Linked DNA regions of Homo sapiens. The protein of the gene in region 2 purifies or fractionates together with the protein of the main gene of each other region. This does not show direct contact. Each region holds a gene or a part of one and is shown on either strand. Other genes may lie near its edges. The genes, in order: GOLGA1 and SVIP.

Region 1 (3,828 bases), on a different chromosome or scaffold from region 2:
GAATTTGAGGCTGCAGTGAGCCATGATTGCACCATTGCACTCCAGCCTGGGTGACAGAGTGAGACCCTGACACACAAAAAAAAAAAAAAAAAAAAAAAAACGAAAACAAAAAAAAAACCCACCATCGACAAAAATTAAAATTTTGGTATGTCCCTACTATATTACTATATAATTGAGAAAAAATAAATTATAGCTCCAGGTATCATATGAATGTTTTTCAGGAGTGCAATGTTGAGCACAAAAAGTAAGTTTAGAAAAATACCTACAGAATGATTTATATAACATTAACAAGCATGGGAAACTAAAGAAGATAGTTTAGGGATAAAACTGACAACATTAGAAAGCAAAGTAGACAATGAAGCAATCTCCAAATAGTACTTACTTCCAAAGGAAAAAGGAATGGGATGGAATAGTGAAGGGCACAGAGGGAACCTCAAAGATAAACACATTGTTCTTTTTCTTAACCTGAGGGATAGCTCAGAGGGCTCATTGCCTTATTATACTTTCTATCATACTCATATTTTATAAATATGTTTTTATATATACTCAATAAAGACAAGAAAAAAACAAATTCCAAATTTACAATCTTCACACAATACCAGCCCTTCTTTTGCCCAAGCCAGAAGCCCATAAATCACCCATAAAAATACAGACTTTTCTCTTCCTGTCCTCCCATATCTATTACATTAGTAAGTCTGTCAATCTCTTCAATAGTTCTTACATTTGTCTACCCATTATTATCTTCACCACCACACTTGTCAAAGCCTCCATCATCTTACGGTCGAACAACTGCAAAAGCTTCCTAAGTGGAAGACCCTCTCAGTCTCCTAACGGCCAGAGTAATCTGTTATTCTCTCTTATTCTGTATGTCACTGGCTTTCTTCTAGTTCCTTGAATGTGCTAATCCTTTTATTTGCCTCAGAGTTTTTGTTCATGCTGTTCCCTGCTTGAAATTCTCTCCCATCATCCCTTTCTCTCCAGCCTGAGCACTGTATCGAGTGTTACTTCCTTAAGTGTTCTACGGCTCCAACTGGATCTGATCTGATATATATATATATTTTTTTTTTGAGACGGAGTTTCGCTCTTTTTGCCCAGGCTGGAGTGCAATGGTGCAATCTCGGCTCACTGCAACCTCCACCTCCTGGGTTCAAGCGATTCTCCTGCCTCAGCCTCCCAAGTAGCTGGGATTACAGGTGTGTGCCACCATGCCCAGCTAATTTTGTATTTTTAGTAGAGACAGGGTTTCTCCATGTTGGTCAAGCTGGTCTCGAACTCCCAACCTCAGGTGATCCACCTGCCTCGGCCTCCCAAAGTGCTGGGACTGCAGGCGTAAGCCACCAAGCCCAGCCCTGATCTGATATCTTTTAATAGGATCTCACTAAATCTCGTAGTTTTCTTTCAGAACACTCATCACGGTTAGTAATTATATATGTGATTACTGATTAATGTCTGACTTCCCTTCTAGACTATAAGCACCACAAAGGCAAGAACTGTATCTATTTTGCTCACCATAATATTATGAACACCCAGCACAGAGCCCAGCACATAGTAAAGCTCAACTAATATTTTTAGAATGAATGAAGAAACTTACTGTGACCAAAGTCTGGACTTCCCTGAGCCCCATTTTTCCAATTATAAAAACAACAGATGGTTCTAATTGACATCAAAGGGTCCCTTGACTATCAAAGTTGTGGCCAGGTGCCTGTAATCCCAGCACTTTGAGGGCCGAGGTGGGCAGATCACTTGATGCCAGGAGTTCAAGACCAGCCTGGCCAACATGGTGAAATCCTGTCTCTACTAAAAATACAAAAATTAGCCCGGTTGGTGCCTGTAGTCCCTGCTATTCAGGAGGCTGAGGTGGGAGGATTGCTTGAGCCTAGGAGGTGGAGGTTGCAGTGAGCCAAGATCACGCCATTGCACTCCAGCCTAGGTGACAAAGTGAGACCCTGTCTCAGAAAAAAACAAAATAATACAAAAACCAAAGTTGTGTATCTATTTTCCCCCTTCTTCCATGACCCCAAATGTACTCTCTGACCTTCTGCCTTTTCTGCCTCCTGCTGTCCTCCTGATCCTTGACATTCCAGTTCCTCTAGGAAGATTTCCTTGACTCCTGGGCTGGAATGTACTTCCCCTATGGTATATCTTTTGTATTTGAAAAATCTAGGGCTGAGTGTGGTGGTTCACCTCTGTAATCCCAGCACTTTGGGAGGCTGAGGCGGGTGGATTGCTTGAGCCCAGGAGTTCGAGACCAGCCTGGGCAACATAGCGAAACCCCATCTCTACAGATAATAATAATAAAAAAAAATTAGCCTGTTGTAGTGGCATGTGTCTGTAGTCCCAGCTATTTGGGAGGCTGAGGTGGAAGGATCACTTCAGCCTGGGAGGCTGAGGCTGCAGTGAGCCGTTGACGTCACTGCACTCCAGCCTGGGTGAAAGAGCAAGACCGTGTCTCAAAAAAAAGAAAAAAAAGAAAAGAAAAAAGAAAAACCTAGTTCACTTACTTGAGACTTCTTGTTTGAGCATTTCTTTTCTTGTGATTACAGTAGGTTTGAGTTCTATAATGAAACTGTAAGCCTCTGAAGGAAAACAATGTCTGTATTGAGATTTTTAGTTCATTGAGGGTAAAAAGCCTGTATCACAGTCATTCATTCACGTATATATTTACTGGGTGCTCCTTATTGTGAGGCAGCAAAGTGCAGTAGAATAAGCATGAGTTCTGGAGTAAGACTTGGGTTAGAATCCAACTCTGTCACTTACGGTTATAACTGTGAACAAGGTCAATAACCTCTTAGTTTCCACTTAGGTATCTGTAAGTATGATAATACTTAGCTAAGACCTCTATTGACAAAATCTTACTGTACTGTAATTATGTTGTAAGGCTCTGTCTCACTTGAGATCAGCAATTCTGAAAGATGAGGGTAGGGTGGATGGCACTGCCGAATAGGGGGTGGTTCTGTGATGTGAGGGGAAGGGCTGGATGTCAATGACTGAAGGATGCTATTGGCATTCAGAACCCAGAGGCCAGGAATGCTAAATGTCGCGCAATGCAATGGACAATCATACAATACGAGTTGTTCTGCTCAAAATGCCAATAATAAATTATGTCATTGGGAAATACTACTTTATTTTATTTATATTTATTTATTTATTTATTTATTTTATTATTTTTTTAAGACAGAGTCTCTCTCTGTCACCCAGGCAGGCTGCAGCGCAGTGGCACAATCTCAGCTCACTTGCAACCTCCACCTCCCAGGTTTAACCGAATCTCCTGCCTCAGCCTCCCAAGTACTGGAATTACAGGTGCACGCCACCACACCCAGCCTTATTTTTATTTTTAAAGATAGTCTTGCTCTATTGCCTGGGCTACAGTGCTGTGATATGGTCATGGCCCACTGCAGCCTTGAATTCCTGGGCTTAAGCGATTCTCCCACCATAGCCTCCCAAACAGCTGGAACTACAGGTGCACACCACCACAACTGGCTAATTTTTTTTTTTTTTTTTGGTAGAGATGGGGTCAAGAGGAGGACCTCATGTGATCCTCCTGCCTTGGCCTACCAAAGTGCTAGGACTACAGGCTTGAGTCACTGTGCTGGGCCTGAGAAACACTACTTTATATTCAAAAATATTATCATTCATCTTTATATTCTCAGAGTGTAGCACAGCCCTAATGTAGAAACAAATGTATGTCAATGAAATGAAAAAACAAATTGTAATGACATCATTTGATTACGTGCCATAAAACAAACTGGATTAGAGCCAAGTATGTCAAAGGTACAGCCCTGGTCATGTCAGCCACTATTGTATTTTTCATGCTCAAGGTCCATTATG
Region 2 (3,828 bases):
ATAAAATTTTACATTATAGTCCAAAGCCTGAAATAAGATGATAGTTTAAAAGCATAAAGAAGACAAAATATCTGGTCAGATTGGTGGGTAGTTGCAGGATAGCTCTGTCTCACTGTCTTGCCTGTAGTTTTCAAGAGTAACTGTAGAATGTGCTGGGAATGTAACATCCTGGGATAGCAAATGAATGGCCAAGGACAGCTCAAGTTCTGTTCCAGTCCCTCCCTAAAGACAGGACGTCCTTCAATGCTTTAGCCCAAGGAGTCATGTAGTACCTCCCCTTCTAACCCCCAGGTCATAAAACCCAGGGCACTCATCTGAGGTTCAAGTGGGGCACACACAGATGTCATCAACCCCAGGCAGTTTTCCTTGGGAGACAAGCTTATAATGAATCCTAGGCTTCTGTTGTCCCTTGTTGCCAATCTGTAAGTAATAAACTCACTCCACGTTAAATGTTTTTGGTTTTGTTTTGGGATTTTCTTGAGACAGGGTCTCACTCTATCGCCCAGGCTGGGGTGAGGTGGGAATGGCTCACTGCAGCCTTAACCTCGCAGGCTCAAGTCATTCTCCCACCTCAGCCTCCCGAAAAGCTAGGACCACAGGCACATGCCACCACACCTAATTTATTTTTTATTTTTGTAGAGACAGGGTCTCGCTATGTTGCCCAGGCTGGTCTCTTAACTCCTGACCTCAAGTGATCATCCCATCTTCTCAGCCTCCCAAAGCCTTCCTCTCACAGCTGAGATTACACGTGTGAGTGACTGTGCTCAGCCTCTTCATGCAAATGTTACATGCATGAGTATTCTGTCCACTGGACTCTGAAGTTGGTAACCACTGCACAGTGAACCTGCTATTCAGTAGCAAGAGCCTAAATATCCAATAATCAGTAAAGGAACACAAAATAAAACACAACAAAACAAAAATTTAAAAATTCTTGTTTGAGCCAGGGAGTCAAGAAATGGCAGAAACCATTAAAAAATGGTTTGGCAAGGTCTTTTCCTTCTTGAGTTAAGAAAATATTCCATTTGCCCCTTTGTTTAATGAAGTCTATTAAATCTGTGATAGGTCCTGAAGAGCCATTAGGATAGAACCAGAGATATTTGGCAATCTCTTGATAGTGTTTTCCAAGTACATCCAAGGAATATTATTGGGTGTTTTATATATATATATACACACACACATATATATATATATACACATATATATACGTATATATATATGTATATATATACGTATATATATACACACATATATATATAAAATCTATGTTTAAATAAATTTTCAACATTAAAGATTAATCCAAGTAAACTTGCTTTTCTTCATTGTACAATTTCTTAGAGGCCATAATTCTGTGCCTTTTTTAGTCTCTAAGAAGGGGATATAGTCTACAATATACAATTTAGCATTTTTAAACATTTATTCCCATGGGACTCTATCTTCCAAAACATCTCTCTTAGGACAAGTGTTATAAACGCTAGGATAGTGATTCTCAATCTGGGTTCACATTAGATTACCTTGGGAAGCTTAAAACAGTCCTGATGGCTAAACCCTACTCTCAGAGACTGACTGGTGTGAGGTGGAGCCCAATGAACAATCCTTTTTGAAAGCTGCCTATGAAACTCCAACATGCAGCTAAGGTGGAAAGCCATTGTACTAGAGGTCTACCCTTACTCCCGTGCTGCTATATCCTGTACTGATAGTACTTTGCATCCTGATGCCATCATCACATTGACTTCTTCAGGTAAGAAGTCAGAAGACAGCATTACCCATGCTAATTACCCTGGAAAGATGCAGCACTGGTCAGGAGATGAATAGGTGAAAGGCATGAAGACAGGGAATGCAAACTAGACTCATACTCTAGGTAGAGTCAGGTCAGAAAGACTCTACCTAGGGAAGAGTCTTCCTAACCTTCCTACCTTAGGAAGACTCTACCAATACTTCAGGCCAGCCCATGAAACAAGCCAGACAGCAGCCATTAAAGGACCATAGGCCAAGCGTTTTGAGGGTTAAGTACTTCTGCCTTGTATTTTTCCCTTCTGTTATCCCTGAGCCTTCCAGAATTTTTTCACTTCATGCTCTTGACATGTTGTGCATGTGTCAAGCAGAATGGAGCATGCCACTTGAAGCTAGTGTGGTAGTGGTAGGTGATGAGGAATATTCCAAGGAAAAATTACTCACAGTGGACAACAGCAGTGGCTAATGACAGTGAGCCACTGGAGAAAATCCTCCTGCCACTATATAGTTTCAAGGTCCTGAAGGTCATTTTTACTAAGTGAGTTTGAGAGATTTCTTACAAGAACAGTACACAAAGAAAAACAGAAACTAAATTTAACTTTGGGTATGTTTTACATTTTGAGCACTTTTGAATGGATTGTAAGTAATATAAGGCCTAAATTTTTTTTTTAATCTATAGACTTCAGAGTGTGGAAGCTTCAAGTTTAAGAAAGCCTCTTTCTTTATTATACTTTAAAAGCTGATGTTAATTTCATTAGGTTAGAACTTGTGAAGTGTCTTCTTAATTATGATTAAGTGTTGATTAAATTATCCTTTTCCTATAACATTACGTATGACTTTAACTTAATACCTTCACCACTTCTACTGTGAAATAGTGGATCTCATTATTTCCAGTCCTACAATTTAACTTTTGTAATTTTGTGTTTGTTTTTGACAACCCTATATGAAGTAAACCTAGTGAAACAGCACTTTATCTCAACAGAATATTGAGATATGATAAAGAATTGACCTCGTTATCACCCAACTGTTTTACTTTACACTAGACCTATTCTGTTCTATTATGGAATTATAAAAAACATAAGCAAAATGGTCAGACTTATTTACCTTATATTGAAACTAATTATATATTGCTAAAAGTTCACCATAAAAAAACTTCATAAATTTTCATTCGTTAAATGATATAAGATGAAGTAACGTACAATAGTAAAATACACAGACACACATTCTTATTTCTGTGATATTCTTGAGCCAGAATCAACTGCTCAGGGTGTTCATAAACTGCCTGCCCCACAAGTTACGAGAGTATCTACATGTAGGCAAGTGTATGTGTATATGTCCATGTATATGTATGTGCATGTGTGTGTGTGTGTAGTTTTGAGAGAAAAAAAACCAATAAATCTGTTGAAAGGTACTCATAAATCATTGACAAGTTAAATATAAATGACTGAAATTAAAGACATTGTCCTTTTCACAAATATACTACTATTTACTTTAAAAATGGACCAAGAATAAATTCTTAATATCTGAGCCATTATTTTCCTGAGCTTTAAGGGATTTTAAAAATAAATCCTTTAAAGTCCTGCTAGAGTGTAAAGACTCCAGCATTCAGAGACTCTGCTTAACTTGTCCACCATTATATTCCCAGTGTCTAGCTCTGGGATCCATATCTAGGGAGGTATGTGTATGATACCCACACCTGTATACATTCTGTAATCCAAATTAACATTTACATAACTATAATAAACAGGGGCAATGGAAAGATCAAAGATTCCAAATCAATGCGTAAAAGAGCTCAGGCCATAAAACAGAACTTATAGCGTAATCCAATTTAATAAGATATATAAATGAAGGTTAGAAATTATGTCTGTCAAAATGGTACTTAGTTTGGATGACTTTTACACTTCTTTATACTTCTCCATATTGCTTGAATTTTTGAATTATTTAAGATTAGTAGTAAGCATAAGAGTATTAAAATATATATAGTGTTAAAATAATAAATCTATTATTTCATTTTGGGGAAAAAAGCTAATTGATTCCAATAAATGTTAAAATAAATTGGTATTACTTCCAATATTTACTACTCATGCTTTTAAACTA

What was found.
Region 1: the proteins of SVIP (region 2) and GOLGA1 fractionate together in Homo sapiens (co-fractionation; one study listed by BioGRID). This does not show direct contact.

The regions. Positions count from the first base shown.
Region 1 is NC_000009.12:124,916,803-124,920,630, forward strand, and holds part of GOLGA1 (golgin subfamily A member 1), read right to left. Parts: intron 1-3,828. UniProt on the Homo sapiens protein: Involved in vesicular trafficking at the Golgi apparatus level. Involved in endosome-to-Golgi trafficking. Mechanistically, captures transport vesicles arriving from endosomes via the protein TBC1D23.
Region 2 is NC_000011.10:22,823,269-22,827,096, forward strand, and holds part of SVIP (small VCP/p97-interacting protein), read right to left. Parts: intron 1-3,828. UniProt on the Homo sapiens protein: Negative regulator of the ER-associated degradation pathway (ERAD) of misfolded proteins. It competes with AMFR/gp78 for binding VCP/p97, and inhibits AMFR/gp78-VCP/p97 complex formation that is required for degradation of ERAD substrates.